Linked DNA regions of Homo sapiens. The protein of the gene in region 3 purifies or fractionates together with the protein of the main gene of each other region. This does not show direct contact. Each region holds a gene or a part of one and is shown on either strand. Other genes may lie near its edges. The genes, in order: XPNPEP1, URM1, RNF20, THUMPD3, MYO1E, BRAP and SUPT6H.

What was found.
Region 1: the proteins of RNF20 (region 3) and XPNPEP1 fractionate together in Homo sapiens (co-fractionation; one large-scale study listed by BioGRID). This does not show direct contact.
Region 2: the proteins of RNF20 (region 3) and URM1 purify together in Homo sapiens (co-immunoprecipitation; one study listed by IntAct). This does not show direct contact.
Region 4: the proteins of RNF20 (region 3) and THUMPD3 fractionate together in Homo sapiens (co-fractionation; one large-scale study listed by BioGRID). This does not show direct contact.
Region 5: the proteins of RNF20 (region 3) and MYO1E fractionate together in Homo sapiens (co-fractionation; one large-scale study listed by BioGRID). This does not show direct contact.
Region 6: the proteins of RNF20 (region 3) and BRAP fractionate together in Homo sapiens (co-fractionation; one large-scale study listed by BioGRID). This does not show direct contact.
Region 7: the proteins of RNF20 (region 3) and SUPT6H purify together in Homo sapiens (affinity purification with western blotting, with the first as the bait; one study listed by BioGRID). This does not show direct contact.

What each region holds. Positions count from the first base shown.
Region 1 is NC_000010.11:109,868,012-109,871,511, forward strand, and holds part of XPNPEP1 (xaa-Pro aminopeptidase 1), read right to left. Parts: intron 2,894-3,500; coding exon 2,720-2,893; intron 2,019-2,719; coding exon 1,942-2,018; intron 702-1,941; coding exon 603-701; intron 1-602. UniProt on the Homo sapiens protein: Metalloaminopeptidase that catalyzes the removal of a penultimate prolyl residue from the N-termini of peptides, such as Arg-Pro-Pro. Contributes to the degradation of bradykinin.
Region 2 is NC_000009.12:128,381,374-128,384,873, reverse strand, and holds part of URM1 (ubiquitin-related modifier 1), read right to left. Parts: intron 1-3,500. UniProt on the Homo sapiens protein: Acts as a sulfur carrier required for 2-thiolation of mcm(5)S(2)U at tRNA wobble positions of cytosolic tRNA(Lys), tRNA(Glu) and tRNA(Gln). Serves as sulfur donor in tRNA 2-thiolation reaction by being thiocarboxylated (-COSH) at its C-terminus by MOCS3.
Region 3 is NC_000009.12:101,554,353-101,557,852, reverse strand, and holds part of RNF20 (E3 ubiquitin-protein ligase BRE1A), read right to left. Parts: intron 3,160-3,500; coding exon 3,010-3,159; intron 470-3,009; coding exon 257-469; intron 1-256. UniProt on the Homo sapiens protein: Component of the RNF20/40 E3 ubiquitin-protein ligase complex that mediates monoubiquitination of 'Lys-120' of histone H2B (H2BK120ub1).
Region 4 is NC_000003.12:9,380,054-9,383,553, reverse strand, and holds part of THUMPD3 (tRNA (guanine(6)-N(2))-methyltransferase THUMP3), read right to left. Parts: intron 3,052-3,500; coding exon 2,936-3,051; intron 356-2,935; coding exon 245-355; intron 1-244. UniProt on the Homo sapiens protein: Catalytic subunit of the THUMPD3-TRM112 methyltransferase complex, that specifically mediates the S-adenosyl-L-methionine-dependent N(2)-methylation of guanosine nucleotide at position 6 (m2G6) in tRNAs.
Region 5 is NC_000015.10:59,366,372-59,369,871, reverse strand, and holds part of MYO1E (unconventional myosin-Ie), read left to right. Parts: intron 1-3,500. UniProt on the Homo sapiens protein: Actin-based motor molecule with ATPase activity. Unconventional myosins serve in intracellular movements. Their highly divergent tails bind to membranous compartments, which are then moved relative to actin filaments.
Region 6 is NC_000012.12:111,661,957-111,665,456, forward strand, and holds part of BRAP (BRCA1-associated protein), read right to left. Parts: intron 1-3,500. UniProt on the Homo sapiens protein: Negatively regulates MAP kinase activation by limiting the formation of Raf/MEK complexes probably by inactivation of the KSR1 scaffold protein.
Region 7 is NC_000017.11:28,675,705-28,679,204, forward strand, and holds part of SUPT6H (transcription elongation factor SPT6), read left to right. Parts: intron 1-452; coding exon 453-726; intron 727-2,010; coding exon 2,011-2,112; intron 2,113-2,371; coding exon 2,372-2,488; intron 2,489-2,840; coding exon 2,841-2,930; intron 2,931-3,116; coding exon 3,117-3,259; intron 3,260-3,500.

The DNA.
Region 1 (3,500 bases), on a different chromosome or scaffold from region 3:
GAGTTAAGACCCATAACCCTCTGAGCTGGGCAAGTAAGCACTGTTGTGCCCCAGGCTTTGTGAAGGGTTTCACTGCCCCAGAGTGACCACAGTAGTAACCGAGAAGGGCTGGTACTATCTTTCTCCTTGTCTGTGTGAAAACAGGACATACGATAATAGATTTTGCTTTCCATTTCCTTAATGTTTCATGTAACACAAGAAAACAATCTGGTATGTACAGTGGCCAAGAGGCCCCACCATCCATCTGGCTTTTTGTAGGGACACACATAGGCTCATATTTGCTAAACACGCCTCACTGCAGCTATGGAGGAATAGTACAGCCAAACAATGGCATACGAGTTCCACCCACAAACCCTACAGCCCCAGAATGGCTGCGGGAAACAGGACTATCTCCACCTGGAGGCCCAACAAATACAGGAAAAGCTCAGGAGTCCTCAGAAAACCTAGGGCTTTCAGACTCAACTGGCCTAGACCTCTAAATTTAAAAATTACAAAGTGAGACTGGATTAGAGAATTTAGGATTTAGAGGATGGATTAGAACTATTTAAGGTAGTCTCCACCTCCCCTAGTAACATGCCTGCCCACCAAGACTTCCCCATTACCTCTTTGTCTGTAAGAGAATCCACATCTATCATTTTGGTCTGAATTGGAACCAATGTTAGAGGTTCAAAGGTCAGGCTTCCCCGGTTATTAAAATTATACTGCGGGAGAAAGAAGAAAACAGATGCTTTTACTCCTCTTTACTATGCTGAAGCACCATGAGGTCATTCCACCAGCATGCCATCCCTCAGAGCCAGGGGTAACTGGGAGCCAAGAAGTGGTGAGCTGGTCACCACTTTTCACAGACACACAAGGAACCTGATGCCATTTTCCAAGAGCTCCTCCACTGGGCAAACAATGGCCTGTGCCATCAGGAAAGGCCAAACAAAGGGTGCTGAGGGGCTCCCAGCAACAGGTCCCAAGGCTAATGTCTACTGTGATAGGAAACAGGGGCAGGATATGGGGGTATCTGGGCTTAGGGGCATCTCTGGTTTTGGTTCTCCAGGATGCAGGGGTGTAAGTCCTCAAAATCATTTTTATAACAGTCAACTGTGTGGTCTGCCTTGACCCAGCCAGGCCCATCAGGCGACAACACATCTATCCACTGGAGCACACAAGAACATGTCGGGTTTCTGTTCATGGCAGCTTTTGGGAATAAGATGGGAGGTCACTTCCAAGAATAGTGACTTCCATGCCAAAGCAGAGAGCAGATCCCCGCAGTTAACCTCCTTGTAGACACAGGAAGCTACTTCCCTCCAATTGTTCAATTCCACCAATGGAGGAGGCACAAACAGGTCTTTTAGGTAAAGCCTAGAGCCTAAAACCCTGCAACCTTGGTAACACTGATGGGGGAAGAGGGTGAAACACCTGTCTTGTATTGCCTTTGAGGCTGACCCATGGATAACTCAGGGTTCCTCAACTTTACCTAATAAAAGTCACCTGGGGAGTGTGACAAAATTACAGCTTCCAGGCCCCCCACCCTGGAAATTCTAGGGTCTGGGAGGGGCCCTGGAAATTAGCGCCTTGAATAGGCACCCCTAGCAGAAGAGACAACAGGCCGCCTATAGTAAACTCAGAGCCCCAAATCATGTGAAGCAAGCATCAGCCTGAGGGTCTGTGAATCCCAGTTCTAGATCCCAGTTCATTAAGGATTTTCTTTCTGGCTTTGCAGGGAAGGAGTGTGGTTTCCAGGAAAGTCCCTGATATCTGGAGAAGAAGGCTCCATGTTGGCCCCAGAATGGCATACTCTTGGCTCCAAAGACATTAAGTCTTCATCTTCCCACACTAAGAAACAGGAAAATTTTTAAGCTTTGCGCAGTGGCAGTATTGTAGCCAATGAGGTCTATCCGAGGCGTGATTATTGCTAATAGAAACAGGAAAATTTTTTTAATAAATCCTCACCTTGGTCTTCACAGGAACCACAAGGACAACATTCTCAATGCGAATTCCAAAAGCCCCATCTTCATAGTACCCGGGCTCTAAAACAAACCAAATCCCAAAAATGAGAAGCAGCCCACGATGAAGATGTCTACAGAGAGAAACTTTCACTCCTTGGATGACTGCCCTACTCCAAAGGAGAAGAAACGGGTGAAGAGCCCACTCTATCTGGTGTAAGAGCCTAGAGATGCCACCTTCTCTCATATGGCCACTTTTTTATAGGCACTTGAGGTGCAGAAAGCTAGACTCTGAAGTCCCTGCACACTGGCTACAGGGTAAGGAGTAAAGTAACAGTGGATCCACTAAATAAATCATGGTTCACATCCGTAAGACACAATAATGAAGGCATTAAAATATATTTACAAAGACTTGGCAATGACCTGAGAAAAGGCAATGTATCAAGTAAGAAAGCAGAACATAAGACAAGATGCCCAGTAAGATCTCAATGATTTAAAAAAAAAATGCTATCTACATACCTGAAAGACCAAAAGCTAATACAGTAAAACACTAAGTCATGTTTCCCCTGAGTGGTTAGATTGCAAATGATTTTCATTTTCTTTTTACACAGTTCCCATCTCATTTTTTCTAAAATGAACATGTATCAGTTCTATAATCAGAAAAGTTTGTTGGAAGGGAAAAGTATTGCCAATTTACTTTAAACTAATTAAAAAATACAAAACAACGAATAGCTTTCAAAAAGGCTCAAGGATCCACGCATGCCCTCTATGTGAGGGACACTTACCATCAGTGACAATCATGCCTGCCTCCAAGGGCTCATCAGAGAATGTTTTGTAACTGATGCCGCAAGGACCCTCATGGACATTCAAAAAAGACCCAACACCATGTCCAGTCCCGTGCAAGTAATCTAGGCCTGAATCCCATAAAGCTGAACGGGCAAAGGAGTCAAGAAGGTGACCTGAAAGACATAAAGAGCCACTTAATTGTATTTGTACAGCGCTTTAGAGATTAAATTTATTATGTGTGGCTCCAGAACGTGAAACAGAAACCAATAGGTAAGTTACTGGAGGGTTCAGATTTCAGCACAGCACAAGGAAGAACTTTCTAACAATCAGAGCTCCTGAGAAACCATCAGAGCTCAGTCTGAAGCTAGGCGATCATCCATTCAGGATGCTGGTGAGCGGGGATAGACACCTACAGCACACAGAGGCCGTATCAGACATGGACGTTCCCTTGCCAGCTCTGCGACCCTAAGGTTTCAGAATTACAAAGATGAGACTCTAACCAGACTGCAAGCAGACAGGCAGGCATGACAGATGAGGAAACTGAGGCCTAGGGAGATGAGTACATGTCTAATCTACCCAAAAGCAAGGCAGCCCAGGTCTTGTCAATGCCCAGTCCAATGCTCCACCCACCAGGCCTCAAGCAAAGTAGTACATAGCTGAAGTCAGGGTCCCAGTAAAATAAATCCTAAGAATCCCGAAAGGAAGCACTGGCCCAGTACTAAAGGGCAGACAGGAGGCTGCACCAACTTCCACTCAGGCCCTGTGACCTTCATATCTGGT
Region 2 (3,500 bases), about 27 Mb from region 3:
CCTGGAGTCAGACAGGCCTGGTTTTGAGCTGGACTCCATCACTTACTAGTTCTATTACCTTAGGTAATAGGAAGCCTCGGCTTCCTTTTTTTGTAAAATGGGGATGTTAACATTGTCTCATAGGGTCATTGTGGGGGATCAAATAAGACGATATATACAAAGCTCTCAGCACTGTGCCCTGCATATCAATGCTGTAATTACTCCAGGATCCAGAGGAAGAACCTATACCCCTCGCGCTCTCTGGGTTTCTGCACGCTCTGCCCAGTGGCCTGGCACCTCAGCTTTAGAGGGCAAGGTAGAGCCAACCATTAATCAGATAGTGCTGGGACCGGCTGGGGTTTTCTGTGGCATCCCGTATCTTCCCATCAGAAGCTGGAAAGGGAATGAGGGGACTGCGAGAGTAGTGAGGGGTCCTAGATACTGACCTTCCTTCTGTGTTAGATGTTTGAACCCACAAGATGTTGGGGTTGGCCAATGCTCCCAGTACAACCCAGGTGGTAGGAATGACACTCTGAGTCTGTAGGTGCTGGCGGCCAGGCTGCCCCCGGGCACACAGCACCAGAGGAAGGAGATGGGCACTTAATACAAGGTTTCCAGTGCAGGATACCTTGGCACCTGGCCTGCCCATCGGGGGCAGAGCAGGCAATGAGAGCTGCTGCTCTATGCTGGAGTGGTTGAGTTCTGAGTCTACAGCCAGAGGACCTCGGCTGTGTGCTCGATGGCCTTAGCTAGGAAGTCACTTCATCTTGCTGTCTCAGTGTCATCCTCTGACAAGCAGGGATAATAATCCAAACACCAAGAGCTGCTGAGGATTACGTAAGGCACAATGCCCAAGGCAGGCCTGGCAGTGTCACACACACAGGACACGCTCAACAGATGGCTGCTCTGAGCTGTAAGCCCACAGTGACTTCAGATTCCTCATCCTCTGGGCTCCAGTACCTTCTAAAGGCTGCTGCCAAAGGGAGGATACCCACTGTGGAGAGCACCGACGCAAGCTCCACCAGAATCCCTCGCCCCGGTGGACTTGTCCTATTCTGGGGGACACTGACTGCCCACTGTGGGAGGGCCCCAAAGGGTGTCAGCCTCAGCCTCGTGGGACTGAAACGGAACAACCTCAAAGTCGTATCTGATATTGACTCGCAGGCGTAACAGACCCTCATCCAGCCTCTCTTTGAACACCTCCAGGGACAGGAGGTCAGCTCCTCTGTGGAGCGGCTCTGATTGTTAAGAGCTCTTTTCTCCCAAGCAGAAATCTGTCTTCCTGTCATTCCCACCCACTGGGCCTGAATGGTCCACGGGGACCATGCCAACAAATGCACCCCCTCTTCCCCAGGATGGCCCTTCAGATTTGGAAGAAAGGATCCCCTAAGTCTTCTCTTCCACAGGTTAAACTGCCTCTGTCCCCACCAAGTCCACCAGGCTCCAAGACGGCTCTTCGGAGAGCCCACCCCAGGCCTCAGTTGAAAAGGGAAAAGAAAGAGCTGGCAAGGGGGGAGTAACAGAGGAGAGGGGGTGGAGGGAACATCAGAGGGGCCATTTACAAGTGAATGGGGGTAAGAATGGAGCAGTTTGTGGGCTAAACTGGCCTCAGAAGGAGGTTTACAGATGTGCGAGGGGACCTCCTCATTGTTTAATTAAGCAGAAAGTGGATCTTTTCAAAAGCAATTTTGCACAGGGACTGGGAGGGGTGTGGGGAGGAGGGAGGTGGAGAGGGGATCAGCAAACAGGCCCTGAGAGCAGAGAAAGGAACAGCTGGCCCCAGAGAGGCTGTGAAATGCATGCTAAGCAGTTTAAAGCGCCCAGGAGCTCCTGCAGCTCCTGCCCTCCCTCACCAGCCACCCTTTAACACAAGTGGAGCAGGCAGAGGGGGCACAAAGGCAGGACAGGGGAAGACAGGCAGGGAAAGGTGAGGCGGCCATGTCTACACTTGGGGCCTGGGCAGGGGGCCTTGGGTCAAAGGGATGCTTGAATCACAGAGGCCAACTCCCAGCAGCCGCAATACCCTAAGCTGGTGGGTGCCTGCATGGCCGTTTCAGCGAGATGGCTGTTAAGACATCCCTTCTCTCACACAACTTCTTACTGGGTCAGCACACTCTGCTTCACCGAATTGTATATACTTGGATCTTGAAGAAACTTTTCTTATAGATGTCAAAGAGACAACCAGCTCAATAACATACAGAGCGAGCCCAACCTCCCATCTTACAGATAGGGAAGAAAGAGTCTGGCAGGAATAAGTGATGTGCAACTGCGCGTGCCAGGCTTCCTCTCTCGCAGTCTCACTCCCTCAGGCCTTGCTCATCATTTCTCCCAAATTGGCTGGGTTGGAAGCTCTCCCCTGGCCTAGGAGCCACGAGTTCCCTCATTTGTGAGGCTTGTCACATTCTGAAATCTTACGGCTGCTATTATTTCTGCTGGAACCTCCAAGACTCGCTTGGCCAAGTGGCAGCCCCTAGGCTGGGAAGTCTGCCAGATGACATATCTGGGCATGGACTTGGGGGAAGGGTAAGACTCTCCTAGCAGCACCAGGCCCCTGACCCCCAGCTGGGCTCACATGTGCCAGGGTGAGGCCTGGCAGCTGCTAACCAGCTCTGTTGGTGACCTAGGTCACCAACCTAGGTTACCATGGGTCTGCTGTGTGACCCATGCCTCTGGGCACAACAGGAACCAGGTGTAGGGACTCACAGCAAAGGAGCCAAAGACTAAGTGGGCCATTGTGCCTTCCCTCCCACTCCCCTCCTTTCTTCCCAGAGTGGGGATAGGCCCCTGCCTGTTCCCTGAACAGTGGCTGGAAGATGAAGGATAAAAAAATCTGAGTCCCAGCCCAGCCTCCCTACTTGGGTAACTCTGGGCAGGCCTCAGGTCCCTCCCTCCTTCTCTTTCTCTTTTAGGGGTCTCTTATCTCTTGGGGTCATCTGAAAGTTGAAATAAGTAGTTGTTGAACTCATGAATAAATAAATGAAGGAAAGCGTAAAAACTGGAAAATGTAAGATGTTAGAGTAATTCAGGGAGCCTCTTGGGATAGACGGTGATGGGTTAGTGGCAAAGCGCCAGGACTCTGAAATTCAGTGGCCTGAAAGCTAGTTCTGAATCCCAACCCTGCTATTTAAATAACTCTATGACTTGGGGTGAGACCCCTGACTTCTCTAAATTTTGGTTTCTACCTTTTATTTGTTTTGTTTTTTGTTTTTGAGACGGAGTCTTGCTCTGCGCCCAGGCTGGAGTGCAGTGGCACGATCTCGGCTCACTATACAACCTCCACCTCCAGGGTTCAAGCGATTCTCCTGCCTCAACCTGGGATTACAGGTGCCCACCACCATGCCCAGCTATTTTTGTATTTTTAGTAGAGACAGGGTTTCACCATGTTGGCCTGGCTGGTCTCTAACTCCAGACCTCAGGTGATCCGCCTACCTTGGCCTCCCAAAGTGCTGGGATTACAGGAGTGAGCCACTGCACCTGGCCTTGGTATGTTACCTCCTTAAAGAGACCTCTGCTGACCACCT
Region 3 (3,500 bases):
AAAACACGTCACTTGATTTTATTTCAGACATGTTTCCATATTAGCAGATCCATATTTGACAAGTACACTGTACTCTTTTGTAGGAATAACAGTAGAGATGTATAATTTATTTACCAATACCCTAATGATGAACATTTAGTTTTCAAATTTTTTTCCAATCACAAAAATGTGCCACAATAATCATTCTTTTACTTATATCATCATGTAGAAAGCACCCTATTTCAACAGAATAGAAAGCTCTACTCATCCTAATTACCTGAGTCTTCAGAGTCAACACCTGGTCTGCCAGCTCCTCCTTCTCTTCTTTAAGCAACTTATGGATCTGATTGGACTTGATACGCTCTGACATGAGCTTGAAATTTGCATCATCCTTCTCCCGCAATTGCTGCATCAAACGGATATTTTGCTCCTGCATGTCTTCAAAGGCCTGGCCTGTGACATCCATTTCAGAGAGGAGTGCTTCTTCTTCCTAAAGGATGAAGGAAGAGATTTGATTTTAGAAGAATCTTCCAACTTCAATGGAAGAGCACAGGAAACTAAATTTTCCCACTGTTCATTTAGATATAAATTAATTTAGTGACAGAGTTTTAAGAAGTTGTGTTTTGTCACTAGGCATACAGAAGCTCTATTATCTGAAGTCACTGGCACCAATTGTTGGTCTGATACTTATTAGTTGATCTGTACTCAACGTCAGTTAAATTAGACAATAATTGTATTTACCTTAATCTAGACAAACGGATCAAGCAGCAATTGGTTAAGAGTACTTCCATCATAACCTCTCACATTTTCTCATGCTTTTCCACAATTAAAATACTGGATCTACAGGATTTCCAGCAGTTGCAAACATCTAAAGCCTTGTAACAATCTGATAGGTGAAGACTGGTATCTAATAATAGCTTTACTTTATATCTATCTCATTTTAAGTGAGACTGAGCATCTTTTCATATGGTTAAGACCACTTGTATTCTTTCCATAACCAACTCATTTCTTTTGCCTATTCTTCCACTGGATTCTTGAGTTTTTTTCCCTATTTTGGAGAGTTTTTTTTGTATCAGATAAGCCTTCTTTGTAATAAAAGTTAAAAATATTTTTTACTTTTTGTCATTTAATCTTTTGGCTTTGCTAACAGTGTTTTTTGCAGTGTAGAAGTTTTGCATCATTTTAAAAAATAACTCAAAATTATCAATTTTTTGTTCATGTTTTCTAGCCTTTTATTCATAGAAAGGTCTCCACTCCAAATTATAAAGGAATTTAATGGTTTTCTTCTAGCTTTTTGATGGATGCATTTTTTAAAATATCATATCTATGATCCATTTGGAAATCATCCTAGTGTATTCAAGTATGTATCTAACTTTTCTCTAACATTATTTTTTTTAATTTTGTCCCATCACATGTCACAGTTTTTCTTTTCCCCACTGATTTAAAACTATGTATTTAGCACATAATAAGTATCATGTGTACTTTCAACTACTTCTCAAGTTTCTATTCAGTTCTAATAGCCTGTCTAGTAGTCCCAAGCTATTTCATCTACAGAAACTTTATGTTTTAATATATGGAAGAGACCCCAGTGCTGTTCTTTTTCAATTTCTCTTGTTACTCTTGTTTACTTCTCCACATGTACTTTAAAACCAGTTCTTCTAGTACCAAAATAAACAAAAGCAAAACTTAAAAAAAGCACTTTTATGAGATCACATTATATTAATACATAAACTTAGAAAGACTGAACATTTTTAAGATAGTCATCGTATACAAGAACATAGTGTCTTTCTTTTTACTTGTTCTAGAACCTATAATAGTATAATTTCCTGATAATTACCTTAAGAGAGAGGGAAGAAAAAAAAAAGTGGCATTTACCAGATTTAAGAAAAGTCAAAATTACACTTTTTTTTTTTTTGAGATGGAGTTTTGCTCTTGTTGCCCAGGCTGGAGTGCAATGGCGCCATCTCGGCTCACTGCAACCTCCACTCCTGGGTTCCAGCAATTCTCCTGCCTCAGCCTCCCAAGTAGCTGGGATTACAGGCATGCGCCACCAAGCCCAGCTAATTTTGTTTTTTTTTTTTTTTAATAGTGATGGGGTTTCTCCATGTTGGTCAGGCTGGTCTTGAACTCCCGACTTCAGGTGATCCATCCACCTCGGCCTCCCAAAGTGCTGGGATTACAGGCATGAGCCACCGCGCCCAGCCCAAAATTACACTTGTTAACAAAAGGAATGTGTATAGGATCTAATGAAGTTCTTCTTTTCAAGGCACTTCATGATCAACTTACCATTAAACCTACTCCATCTCACTGTTATTTTGCTATTTCTTAGAAACAATGAAGGTGTACTAACAGAGAATACATATATGGTTTTTTCAAGCATTTTCAGTATCTTTATTATTGAATTTTAATAAAAATTCCCTGGCATTTAAAAATACATACATATTCATTATAAGGAGGAGAACAATCTCTATAGTTCTATGACCCCAAAATAGCCATAGTTAACATACTGCTTAATCAATGTTATTATATTGGTTAATAGATTATATCCTTATTATATATAAATCACATATTTATAAGCATAGTTTTTCTGTGTAGTATATGTACTACATAGAAATATATAATGATATATATTTATAAGCATAGTTTTCTTAGTTTCATATATTTGTAATCATAATGTATATAAAATCTTATGTCTTATTTTTCATTTTATATTCACTATAACCCTTAATTCCAGGTCAGCAAAGAAAGACTAGATCTTCAATAACTGTCTGAACAACAGCAGAGAAAGACTAGATCTTCAATAAATGTCCATTTAAATAAAAGTAAATTTCTTGCCTCACAAATACACAAAACAAAATAACAGAAAGATAAAAGACTTGAAGGTAAGAATTAAAACACACACACAAAAAGGAAAAATACACATTAACAATCAAAAAAAGACCAAAATAAAAAAGCAAATTTCACTGGCAATAACTTATTGTCAAGTAACATTTACTCAAAAAGTCAATTAAATAAAGAAAGTGAGTCCACCTGCTTGGCCATGGCTAGCTTCTTCTGTAGGTATTCTATCTGCTCCTCCACTGCCCGGATCTTCCTCAAGGCATCCTCATCAGCCATTTTCTTGTTCTCTTTCTTCTCTTTATCTTCCAGATCCTTGAGTCTTTGCCTTAGATCTTCCAACTATAAGAGGAAAGGAATTGCACAAAAATAAAAAGTTATAACACATTTTCAAAAATCAATTAATACTGTGCAAAGATAGAAGGTTCATAATACCAAAAGAGTCTTTACAGAATTATAGAACAAGGTACATAATATACTAAAACATTACATAACACCATCTGTTTTAACATCACTCCATTCTACTATGACATGCTTCTATAAGCAACACTTTTGAGAAGTGCACAGGTAACTTTCTTTAGAATAGTGGTTCCCATCCTTTTTTTTAGGCCTCAAAATTTTAAGAGCATAAGACATTCCTCCCAAAAGTAATGAAAAAGATTATCCCTGTAGCAATGAATTAC
Region 4 (3,500 bases), on a different chromosome or scaffold from region 3:
AATGGGCTAGAAAGTGAATTACAGGTAATTTAAAAATGAACCTCCCATGATGGTCAGGATTCCAAATGTAGTTAATACATTCCTGAGTTCTCGGAAGAAACATAATGGGTGAATCCATCATGTTGTTAAGTGAAAAACAGCTCTGCTAAGTCTGCTAAAATTCAAGATTTTTTTCCTGACTTAGAATAAACGCAAGGAAAATAATGACATATTTAGAAGACAAGCAGGTACTAGTATTTCTCACCTTTTTCCAAATGGCAAATCTGTTACAATAATATCCACAGAGCCAGTTCTCAATGGCAGATTGCAGATATCCCACTGAACAGCATCTATGGGCAAGCCCCAGGAGGGTTTGCTGTGGGGACAAAGGAAAGGTGCTTCAACATACTGTGAAGCATAAAGTTATTACAACAATTTTTGTTTCTGAAGAGAGACTGCTACAGCAAAACATAAACTGCTAAGGATATCAGTGATAATATCAACCTATTCAAAATTTAAGAAATGGCACAAAGGTAAAAAATAGGTCAGGCTGGGCATGGTAGCTTGTGCCTATAATCAGCACTTTCAGGGGCTGAGGTGGGAGGATCACTGGACTCCAGGAATTTGAGACCAGCTGAGCAACACTGTGAGACCTTGTCTCTAAAATACTTTTTTAAGAAGTTAGCAGGGCATGATGGCACACACCTATAGTCCCAGCTACTCAGGAGGCTGAGGTGGGAGGATCACTTGAGTCCAGGAGTTGAAAGATGCAGTGAGCTAGGATTGTGCCGCTTTACTCCAGCCTGGGTGACAGAGCAAGACCCCCGTCTCAGAAAAAAGGGAAACAAACTGAAAACATGATTGTAATGCAGAGAACTGCAAAAGACAACTTTAAAAACAATGCTGAAGCAGTAAATTACATAACCGATGATACAAAAATTTAAGTTGCTGATAAAACATACACTGGAGAAAAACAATACTAAAGAATAGATAATGGGGTGATGTATCTGAAGAATAAAGTTTGTAAAACTAGTAATAACAGGAGGCCTAAAAGAAAAACAGATAGTAAAATTGGCAAATATATAGGTAATTGTTTCAAGATGAAAAACCAAAAGGAAAATATGTGCCATGCTATATAAAACAAGACTAAGAAAAAAGTTAAGATAAAAAATATAGATGACAGAAGACAGAATGAATAATAATAAATACAAAGGATTTAAATCCTCCTCATTAAGGCAAAGCAACTGGTTTAAGAAACAAAATAATGCACAGGCTAAGAACTGAAGATAAGTCAAAGGTTATCAGCAGAAATTAAGGATTTAATTGACATTTAATGAAGAATTTAAGAAAAAAATGCAATAAAAGCAATCATTACATAATTTTTAAAAGTACACATAAAATATGTATTATAACCGCATACCAATAACTGCACAAAACAAAAGGCAAAAAATATTAAAAACCAAAGTAAAATGGATAGAAATGTACAGGTTGAGGCCGGGCACAGTGGCTCATGCCTGTAATCCCAGCACTTTGGGAGGCCAAGGTGGGCAGATCATGAGGTCAGGAGATTGAGACCATCCTGGCTAACATGGTGAAAACCCGTCTCTACTAAAAATACAAAAAAAAAATAAGCCGGGCATGGTGGCGGGTGCCTGTAGTCCCAGCTACTTGGGAGGCTGAGGCAGGAGAATGGCGTGAACCCGGGAGGCGGAGCTTGCAGTGAGCCGAGATCAAGCCACTGCACTCCAGCCTGGGCGACAGAGTGAGACTCCGTCTCAAAAAAAAAAAAAAAAAAAAAAAAAAAAAAAAAAAAAAAAAGTACGGGTTGAACAGACAGTGTAGGTACAAACAAGATAAAATATTCAGAAGCTAGAAAGGTACGTTTGTTTAAATGTTTATCAGTTTTAATTAAAAAAAAAAAAGACTGGCCATATACTAGGCTCATTAAAAAAAACCCTCAATAAATATGAAACAACCATTCAAAATTAATTCATCACAATAAATCAGTATTTAAGAAAATTGAAGCCTTCCAACTACTTGTCTTAATACACGTAAAAGGATTTAATGTTGATACATAGACCAGCAGCATCAGCATTGTCCTGGAGTTTCCTGGAAAATGCAGACTCTTAGGTCCCATCCCAAACTACTAAATCAGATCTGTGTTAACAGTACTCCTAGGTGATTCACATGTACATTAATGTTTGAGAAGCACTGTCCTAAAAAATTAGATCAGAGAGACAATGAAATATATAACCAATGACTTAGTAATAAAATAGAGGCGAGGCTATATAAACTGCAGTATTTCTATACGATGGAATTTATGTAGTGACTTTAAAGACTATGGTCCAGGTGTGGTGACTCGTCTCTAATCCCAGCAATTTGGAAGGCTGAAGCGGCAGAATCTCTTGAGGCCAGGAGTTTGACACCAGCCTGGACAAAACAGCAAGACCCCCATCTCTACGAAGATTTTAAAAAATTAGCTGGGCATGGTGGCACATGCCTGTATTCCTAGCTACTAGGGAGGCCAAGGCAGGAGGATTGCTTGAGCTCAGTAGGTTGAGGCTACAGTGAGCCATGATCATGTCACTGCACTCCAGCCTGGGTGACAAAATGAGACCCTGTACCCAAAGCAAAAAAGAAGCCTATGTAAAAATATACTGTTTAAAATTTTGTGAAATTAAAATGAGTCTATAAAATATTCTTCCAATATGTAGGGGAAAAGACATATGAATAAGACAAATGAAAAATTGCATATGGTGGGGAAATTATCGCTAAAATAATATTTTAAAAATATAACTTATTTTCAATAAACTTTAAAAATGTAAATGGAGTCTCATAGTATATTCATTTTGGTTACAATGACGTCACAATGCACTGGGAGTTTTAATTCATAAAGTCAATATAAAAAGTGATTCTCTAACTCTAAAAGATGCTAAGAAATCTTTTAAATTTTTACCCTTCTTTAATTTGGCTCTTGGTCAATAAAGATGCAATGTTATTTGCTGCTCTATTCACAGCCAGTGGATTATTATCACCAGCAATATGGAAACAGTCAGACCATTCAGTGGCCCCCTAAAAGATAAGAGTGTATGTTAAAACAAAAGTAGCAAACTGTAAAATATGATTAAATTGTCAACAAACAAAGAAAATCCAGTGCTTTTCTAGAGTGGCAAAACATTGCATGTTGTCAACTGTGCTATTTCCCTGGCTGAAAATGCCCTCTTATTCTTTCTCTGCTTGCTGAACCTCTACCCATCTCTTAAGACCCAGCTCAAACCTCATGCCCTTTCAACATCAACCTTAACTCTCCAAGCAGTCTTATGTGCCCCTCCCAAAAACACTTTGTATGTACGTACCTCTGCCACTGCACTTGTCCCACGGTTAATTATTTCTTCCCCTTTATGCCTCTCAACTAACCTGGGAGCTCTCTGAGGTCAGGTCTAGTATTTTATTCAGTTCCTCATCCAGCAGTGTCTGGCACACTAAATTCTAAGTTAATGCGGTTTGAAAATATTTGAGAT
Region 5 (3,500 bases), on a different chromosome or scaffold from region 3:
TCTGGTAGCATAGTAGGAGGGCTCTCCATCTGTACCTGAGGCCCTACTAAGACTCATTCAGTTGTGACTCATAAGGAAAATAGCCATTTTCATTTTCTGACTCATGAACACAGTGTACAGCTTGTAGTTCACCTTCTATCTTCCTCCTGAAAACTCACTTTGGGACACTTTTCTATCTTGAGAAAACTAGGAACACTACCAGGCAATAGTTACTTGTGTCTTTTTCCTAAGGAGACTTGAAGAAGTTAAAAAAAACCCTGCACATCTTTATAATTTAGTGGAGGTTGTTTAGCAGAGTACAAAAAAATCTCTGTTGACTTTAACCGTAATACCCATCTAAGGCTTCCTTCGTAGAATCTGGGCTTATCATCATCTGCAAAGGAAGTTCTGCTTTTGTGGCCATGACCAGTTTGGACTCTCTGATAGACTGAAACCCATGGCTGTAGGTCCGCTATGTGCTTTGGATCCAGAAATTGTGATTGATTTTTATGCAAGGTTTCTGTGCATTAAATATACAGAAATATTTGAGCAAATCTGAATTGACCATCACCTCAAAACATGTTCAAGAGCTGTTCCCTTTTCCTTACTTGCATATACTTGTGAGGAAATTATAGATATGACACATAAGAATACCCAGGAATAGATTTACAACCTAGAAATCTGATGGATAGCTGATGATAAGGTAGGTAAGTTCCTTTAGGTGATGGCATGGCATGTATTTAGAAAGTCTGGAATACATTTCAAATGTTTCCTGGGAAGGTAACCTACTTGATTTCCACAGATTAGTTTATCAGATTGCTAGTAGTCTCCTAGTCAAAACAACACAATACAACAAAACAAAACCAGAAAGGAATGGGATCAAGCACAAAAAAAGTTTTGATGGAGGCAAAGCGTTGGGGAAATACCTAGAGTCCGGGACATTATCTAGGGACAAGTGTGAGTGGGCCATCCTAGTGGGAAATATTTGACAGCCCAGGCATCTCCTTGGAGAGAAAATGGGTGGAGCAGTGGATGGAGAGGGATGGAGAAGTATAAGAAGCAGACATTTACTGAAGTTGAAAGTCACCTCCACCACACTTTTGCTGAGGACTACAGTCTTGTCAGTGGTTGCAAACTTTTTTTTTTTGAGTTGGAGTCTCTCACTGTCGCCCGGGCTGGAGTGCACTGGCGCGATCTCAACTCACTGCAACCTCCGCCTCCCGGTTTCAAACGATTCTCCTGCCTCAGCCTCCCAAGCAGCTGGGATTACAGGTGCCTGCCACAACGCCCAGCTAATATTTTGTATTTTTTAGTGGAGACGGGGTTCCACTATGTTGGCCAGGCTGGTCTCAAAGTCCTGACCTCGTGATCCTCCTGCCTCGGCCTCCCAAAGTGCTGGGATTACAGGTGCCTGCCACAATGCCCAGCTAATATTTTGTATTTTTTAGTGGAGACGGGGTTCCACTATGTTGGCCAGGCTGGTCTCAAAGTCCTGACCTCGTGATCCTCCTGCCTCGGCCTCCCAAAGTGATTACAGGCATGAGCCACTGTGCCCGGCCAGTGGTTGCAAACTTAAATGTCTTATAATTTGGTGGAGGGAGGCTGGCCTCTAGAGAGTAAATATGGAATATATGTGCCATTCTAGGAGGCACCACTACTTGATTCTAGGCCATGGTTATATCGACCATATTACCAAATTATCTTGTTTTTCAAGAGAAACTAGAAATCTAGATTTTTATGCTATATCTGCCAGTTCTTATTTTTATTTATTTTGAGACAGAGTTTTGCTCTTGTCGCCCAGGCTGGAGTGCACTGGCGCGATCTCGGTTCACTATAACCTCTGCCTCCCAGGTTCAAGCAATTCTCCTGCCTCAGCCCCCTGAGTAGCTGGGATTACAGGCCCCACCACCACACCCGCCTAATTTTTGTATTTTTAGTAGAGACAGGGTTTTACCATGTTGGCCAGGCTGGTCTCAAACTCCTGACCTCAGGTGATCTGCCCGCCTCAGCCTCCCAAAGTTCTGGGATTATAGACGTGAGCCACCACGCCCGGCCTCTGCCAATTTTTATATGTGATTTGATCATCTCAGAGGGGCCAAACACAGCTGCAGATTAGCTGTTTGCAGCCACTTTATTGTAAGTCTTAACATGGTGTCCTTCTGTGAACCACAGTGATTCTTCTCATTCACTCACCAGGAAGAATGTCTAAACGTTCACTGCATACCCAGTAGTGGCATTCAGTATTTATCCATACATCCACACCTTCCTACTGGGTCTCCCTAAAGAGAGGGAATAGCCTGGTATTTTCAGCCTATGCATTCTCTAAGCTATTATAACAGGGAAAATCTGCATCCAGCTGCTACTGTTTGGCGCTATCTCAACACCTGTGTAGGATGGTTCCACGAGTGGTGAGGCTGCAAATTGAGCTTTTCTCTTCAACCCTTCAACTCCTTCCTCCACTGAAAATGCCATGGCCTCCAATGTCACATGATGGACTTCTTGTTTTTCACTCCTTTTTCAGTTGAATCTCATGAATTGGCGGTCTGTCTCAGGCGTTTTCCTGAGGGTTAGATAATGAGCAGCGGCGTGCATTCTGATAACTTAGAATACAACATTTTGCCTCTGTGCCTAGTGTGGGCATGTGATGAGCCCCTGTGAGACTCAGTGAAAGAACATATAGTACCTTGCGTTTCCTCATGAGCCAAGTGTGGGGCCTTATTATTCATTAGGAATTTGAGAAATCTCTTTTTATCTGCTTCAACAAGCAGAAATATTTTAAATCTTCTGTGTAAGTGCAAGGTATTATAAGCTTCATGGTAGGATATATAGGAATTATGTACAGTCATGGTTTTCCAAGTTTGAGTCATCTCTTTTTTTTTTTTTTTTTTTTTTTTTGCGAAAATGCAGCAACTTGTGTTTTTACCAATCTGTGATTAAAATGTTTCTTAATGGTGAGTTTTTAAAAACTTTTTTTTTCTTTTTCTCACCATGCTGAAATATTTACAAAGTAAATAAGAGGTTAAAGGTTAAATGCCAAAGGTATTAAAATAAACATCTCAGCCTTATAAGCACATTCTGTAATAGTGGTAAACAAATTGTGTTTTGAATTTCAGTTTCAGAATTTATGTTGGCAGAGACAAAAGGTTTTGGGGCATCCTAGCAAAGTATTTTTTTCATATATCTTTGGGACAGCCACACTTAAGAGAAGTACAACTGTAAAAGCCAGCCCTAACATAGTGACATGAACTTTGACAACCCATAGAACTCAAACTGTACATGTGAATGAAGTTGGCCCGCCCTTCTGAGTTACCACCATGAGAATGACGTCATTGCCGTTGTTCAAAGCACTTTTGAATGGTCATTTATGAGCTATGTAATAAAACCTATTTTTTTGCCGGGTGTGGTCGTTCAGGCCTTTACCAAAAAAAATTTTAAAAATTAGCCACGTGTGGTGTCATGCACTATAGTCCCAGCTACTTGGGAGGCTGAGGTGGGAGGATTTCTTGAACTGAGGAGTTCAA
Region 6 (3,500 bases), on a different chromosome or scaffold from region 3:
AGCCACCGCACCTGGCTAAACACAAAGGTGTTAATGTACTTATTGAAATGCACATGATATCTCACTGCACCGTGAACATCATGTGGAAGATACCAGTGCTCTATCAGGCATTCATGTCTCAATTTACAAAAAGCCAATAAAAACAATGTTGAAAAAATCCATTAACTGTTTTCTATTATACTCCACACAAAATAATACTAAATACTAGTCATGAGTATTTTTGTTAGATGGGCAACTAGGACAGAAAGTGGGTTATAGCTGAGGCTGACTGAACTGGCACCAGGAAGAAACAATGCTCAAGATATAACTAGTGGCTAGGCGCGGTGGCTCACACCTGTAATCCCAGCACTTTGGGAGACCTAGGCGGGCGGATTACCTAAGGTCGGGAGTTTAAGACCAGCTTGACCAATATGGAGAAACCCTGTCTCTACTAAAAATACAAAATTAGCAGGGCATGGTAGCACATGCCTGTAATCCTAGCTACTTGGGAGGCTGAGGCAGGAGAATCGCTTGAACCCAGGAGGCAGAGGTTGTGGTGAGCTGAGATTGCGCCATTGCACTCCAGCCTGGGCAACAAGAGCGAAACTCCGTCTAAAAAAAAAAGCTATAACTAGTAACAGTTACCCAACTAAGTAAATAAAACCAAGAAAATGGAATAAACAGGAAGAACACTGTGTCACAGATGACACAGCTCTATCTGTGTAAGAGAAAGGAAAGGATCTAGTCCACTTCTTCCTTTAGCATCAAAAGAGAAGACAGAAGACAAACTCAAAGAAAGAACAGAAATGGTAGCCAGAAAGCAGAATGCAGAAAGTAGAAATTGGCTTTGTCTCATCCCTTCGGTCTGTGTGGTGGCTGTGAAAGTGGTTGAATAAGAAAACAGGCCAGGTGCAGTAGCTCACATCTGTAATCCCAGCACTTTGAGAGGCCGAGGCAGGAGGATGGCTTGAAGCCAAGTCTACCCTGGCCAATGTGGCAAAAGCCCTTCTAAAAAAAAAAAAAAACAAAAAACTAAAAACAACAGAATTAGATTTCAGAACTGGTTCTGAAATCTAATTCTCTACACTATGCCCAAATGATCAAAACGATCTTTCTGAAATGTAAATTTGATCTTGAAAAGAAAAAAAAATTACAAGAATAAACTTGTAAACAAACAATTAGCATTCTATGATATACTACCTCATCTGTCTACTAAAAAATAATCAACAGTTTATCGGCCAGGCACAGTGGCTGACGCCCATAATCCCAGCACTCTGGGAGGCTGAGGTGAGTGGATCACCTGAGGTCAGCAGTTCGAGACCAGCTGGGCCAACATGGCAAAACCCCATCTCTACTAAAAATATAAAACTAGCCAGGTGTGGTGGTACATGCCTGTAGTCCCAGCTACTCGGGAGGCTGAGGCACGAGGACTGCTTGAACCCGGGAGGTGGAAGTTGCAGTGAGCCGAGATCACGCTACTGCACTCCAGCCTGGGTGACAGAGTGAGACTCCATCTCAAAAAATAATAATAATAATAATTAACAGTTTATTAAATTCTTCCTGCCTTTCTCTGCAAAAAATTATTTTATCCTATTTTCCTGATGAGATCTTTGGGAGCTCTTCCCAAAGCCTTCTCTGACATCTCTATCAAAAAGACCAACACTGCCTCCTACTGCAGCCCTTCCTGAGTACCCCTGGTTGGGGATGCCATCATTCTCTCTTCCAATCTCCACCCTGAACCACATGTGTTTATGTCCAAGTGTAAACTCTCTTAGACCAAACCACCCCAAAGAGGACCTGAATTTGCTTCCTCTGTCTCAGCATCTCTCACAGTTCTATGCATGTACCAAGGCTCAAAACTCATTAAATGAACTGCATGATTCTGAGGGCAAATGGCATGTCTTACATCCCATATGACAGGTTGAATTCTAGTCCCAGTTCTGGCATTCTCTGGCCATGACACTTTGAGCTTGCAAATTCTTATCTTTGGGCCTGTGTCCTCCTCCTGTATAAAATGAGGTTGTTGGAAAAAATGGTCCCTGAGGAAACTTCCAACTTTAAAATGCTATGGTTCTGTAACAGTTAATTTATATCAAAAGGAATACTGGGGATGGGTATCGTGGCTCATGCCTACAATCCCAGCACTTTGCGAGGCCAAGGCAGGAACACTGCTTCAGCTCAGGAGTTCAAGACCAGCCTAGACAACATAGCGAGACCCCATCTCTACAAAACAAACAAAAAAAACAATTAGCTGGGTGAGATGGTGCACACCTGTAGTCCCAGCTACTTGGGAAGCTGAGGCGAGAGGATCACTTGAGCCCAGGAGTTTGAGGAGGCAGTGAGCTGTGATCATACCACTGCACTCCAACACGGGTGACAGAGCAAGACCCTGTCTCAAAAAAAAAGTAAAACTGGAGTGGCGGGGAACAAAGAATTGCCTAGAACTTAACTGGTATAGCAGATGGACTGAAGATACAGGTAAACACTTTAAGGAATGCACATATCTCAGTATGGCTTTGTTCAAGGCAACTGGACAATTCCTTGGAAAACTCCCAAATGATACCTAAGAATTGACTGAGGACTCCACGGAATTGGAGCAAGACTCCTGTCCAGCTAAATAAGCAGGGCAGTGATAAGCTGCAGAGACCCAGTTTATTTATGTGCTCCTCAGTGTCTACCACTGTGTGCCACGTCCCCCACCAGGTGTGAGAGACACAGCAGTGAGCAAGCCAGGCATGGCCCCCGCTCTGTGAAGCTGATATTCTTCTTCCGGCCACCAGGCCACTTGTGGGTGGACAGAGATTCCTGTAGACTTTCACCCCTCCTCACTTCTGTGCTTGGGAACATGATCTTCCCCTTCCCCCACTGCCTTCTCTGGGTTCTGCTCTTTACCCGGCTTAACTCCTAATTACCCTCCTGGAGATGCCACTTCTCAGGTGGTCCTGGCTTCATTAGGGCCCCAGTTCTCAGTCCCAATGCTGCACACTGCTCTTCTGTAACACTGGTTATGGCTGTGATTTATTTACTTGTGTGATTTCATTTCTGGGTTCCCCTCTGTACTGGGAAATCCAGAAGGCCAGCATCTGATACACCTTTCTGGTTAAGTCCCACAGTGCAGTCTGCAAAGGGAGCAACCATCCTGGATTTAGGGGGTAAAAAAAAGGTACAGGCCTTACCTGTTCTTTGTCTGTAGCAACATCACCTATGACTAAGACCTGGTATGTTGGGAATCAGGAGGCTGTAGAGTAGATCTCATACTTAGTAACTGCTATTTCTACTGGCCACCAAGCCATCAACAGCCCAGCAAAGCTAAAATATTAGGCTGCTGTAGCCCAGTTGATAAGAAGCCCAGAGTGAATGGCAGACACCAAGTGCAGCTGATACATGAGATTCCAGACCTAGATTTCACTGCAGCACGAGAGCCTCAAACTAAGCTTTGCTTTTTTTTTTCACTCTCTGGCTCTTGGAAGGAAAGAACAACTCATGCTGCTTTGGGGAATTCCACAAGGGTTCAGAATCAG
Region 7 (3,500 bases), on a different chromosome or scaffold from region 3:
TCCCACATGGGCAAGGCTCCAGCATTCCTCTTCCGCCTACAGCTCCATGTTTATTCAATTATATATATATTGACATTCTTAATATATTTTTGTTGGAAGACAAATGCCCGCATCACAATTTACAAATTTGAAAGCTTTTGCCCTGAGGGAATACTGTAATGCCTTAGCAGAAGATGGGTCCACTGAGCAAGACATAGACCCGTCTGCTCTGTTGCTATTTGATTACTGTCACTCGAAGGTGCCAAAGATGAGCTTTTTAATCTTCCATATACAATAGTTTGCCCAGAAATATCCGCCAATGAAGCCTTTCGTCCACAGTGAATATGGTTATTTTGTTTACCTTCCTCCTAACCCTCTCAGTTCCCTTGGGACAAGTAAAGGATCTATGCAAGGGCTGCATTTCTCTCCTCTCACCTGAACCTGAGCCACCTGCCTCTTGCTGCCACCTACAGGGCCCTGCAAGAAGCCCAGGAAATCTTCGGTGTGGACTTTGACTATGATGAATTTGAGAAATACAATGAGTATGATGAAGAACTGGAGGAAGAGTATGAGTATGAGGATGATGAGGCTGAGGGTGAAATCCGAGTGCGCCCCAAGAAGACCACCAAGAAGCGTGTGAGCCGTAGGAGCATCTTTGAAATGTATGAGCCCAGTGAGCTAGAAAGCAGCCACCTCACAGATCAGGACAATGAAATCCGAGCCACTGACCTGCCTGAGAGGTTCCAGGTAAAAAACCACCAGCCTCTGCTCTTCTACCAATCCATAATTACCTTGTAGCCAAGAAATATTCTAGCAAAAGTCTGGCATTGAGTATCCAGCACAGGTTTGAACCTCATCTCACCTGGGGCCTGGGAAATCCAGCTCTTAGAGAAGGGAAGATAGACTCTACCTTGCTTACGGTTCTAGAAATACTGTTTTCTTTAGAAATCTGTGAAATGCAGTCTGGGTGCTGTGGCTCACACCTATAATCCCAGCACTTTAGGAGGCCAGGGTGGCAGATTGCTTGAGTCCAGGAACTCAAGACCAGCCTGGGCAACATAGGGAGATCTTGTCTCTACAAAAAATACAAAAAACTAGCTGGTTGTGATGGTGCACACCTGTAGTTTCAGCCACTCAGGAGGCTGAGGTGGGAAGATTGCTTGAACTTGGGAGGTCACGGCTGCAGTGAGCCATCATTGCACCACTGCACTGCAGCCTAGAAGCAGACCCTGTCTCAAAAAAAAAAAACCATGAAATGCTTATGGCCAGGCACGGTGGTTCACACCTGTAATCCCAGCACTTTGGAAGGCCAAGGTGGGTGGATCACCTGAGGTCAGGAGTTCGAGACCAGCCTGGCCAACATTGTGAAACCCCGTCTTTACTAAAAATGTAAAAAATTAGCTGGGCGGCCAGGCACGGTGACTCACGCCTGTAATCCTAGCACTTTGGGAGGCCAAGGTGGGTGGATTGCCTGAGCTCAGGAGTTAGAGGCCAGCCTGGGCAACATGGTAAAACCCTGTCTCTACTAAAATACAAAAAAAAAAAAAAATTAGCTGGGCGTTGACAGCATGCATCTGTAATCCCAGTTACTTGGGAGGTTGAGGCAGGAGAATTCCTTGAACCTGGGAGGCGGAGGTTACAGTGAGCTGAGATCGCGCCATTGCACTCCAGCCTGGGCAACAGAGCGAGACTCCATCTCAAAAAAAAAAAAATCAGCTGGGCGTGGTGGCGGGCACCTATGATCCTAGCTACTCAGGAGGCTGAGGCAGGAGAATCATTTGAACTCCGGAGGCGGAGGTTGCAGTGACCCTAGATCGCGCCGTTGTGTTCCAGCCTGAGCAACAAGAGTGAGACACCATCTCAAAAAAAAAAAATGCTTATTTCATGCCAGAACAACACTGGTATGGCATTTGTAGAACAATACTGGAAATGTGCACTTGATGATCACACGTTTCTGTCCAAAAAGGTATGTTTTTCTTAAGTGAGACACAAGATAAAGTCCGTCTCACCCTGTTGTCTTATCCACTCCAGCTCCGCTCCATCCCAGTCAAGGGGGCTGAAGATGATGAACTAGAAGAAGAAGCTGACTGGATCTACAGGAATGCTTTTGCCACACCAACCATTTCTCTCCAGGTACACAAAAAAGATCCTTAGGTTTTGACATGAACCAAAAGACACTTCATCAAGATGGGGAGCTCTTCCTCCCCTATTTCATACATCCGTGTGCCTGGTATTAGAAAACTGTGTGTATGTAGTCCCAACAAGTGTGTGTATATGAGAAAAATTTTTTAGATTTCATCTAGAAAGGTTATCCTTTGTTATTAAGCAGTCTTGTATGGTAAGACAAACCAAGTAAACATTGTCTTGCTATTTCTTTATTTTCCTACTGTAGGAAAGCTGTGATTACCTAGACCGAGGGCAGCCAGCCAGCAGCTTCAGTCGGAAAGGGCCCAGCACAATTCAGAAGATCAAAGAGGCCCTGGGCTTCATGCGAAATCAGCATTTTGAGGTAACACCTCAAGCTCTGGTGGCCCATTGGTGAGAAATTTAGTTAGGGGATGAGGGAAAAGATAATTACCTAAATGAGGTGGGAGCCCCCTTCCCGTATCCCCTATCCATGACTCAACAAGTGTTAGGACCAGCAGAGACCCTAGTGATCGTAAGAACAATGCTACCCTGTCTGCAGCTTTATTTTCTCCTATTGAGGAAAGCACCAGGCCCTGGAAGGGCTGTGAGGGAGGCCAGGCTTCTGACTGTTGAATTTCCTGGAGCTGTTTCTCCAGGAAGTCATTATCTACTGACAGAGGGGATCTTAGCAAATCTGTCTTCTCTGAGTGACTGCAGTCTCTTTGCCATCCTAGGTGCCTTTTATTGCCTTCTATCGAAAGGAGTATGTGGAGCCTGAGTTGCACATCAATGACCTATGGAGAGTCTGGCAGTGGGATGAAAAGGTAATGTAGATCCGTGGCCCCCAAGAGGTGTGGGCCAGGGAAGGCACCATTACTACCAGGATACCACAAACCCAAACCCCCCAGGCCTGTCTAGTCCTCCCCCACTAGGTTTCTGGTAAGGATCAGAGCAGCCTTGAGTCTCCAGGGCTGAACACAAGCTCTCATTCCTGCCCTACTTCACCTTAGTGGACCCAGCTGCGGATCCGTAAAGAGAACCTAACACGGCTGTTTGAGAAGATGCAGGCTTATCAGTATGAACAGATCTCTGCTGACCCTGACAAACCTCTTGCTGATGGCATCCGGGCTCTGGACACCACTGACATGGAGAGGTAAAACATGCGGTGTTTATTCCATTATGGGAAGCCCTCAGACCCCAAGGCTGGCCCTGCAGGAGCACTGTTAAACCTTGGAGAATGTGTAGCACAGGGCCCCATCCCTTAGAAATCCAACTTGTCAACCAGGCACAGTGGCTCATGCCTGTAATCCCAGCAATTTGGGAGGCCGAGGCGGGCAGATCACTTGAGGTCAGGAGTTCAAGATCAGCTTGGCCAGCATGGTGAAACCCCATCT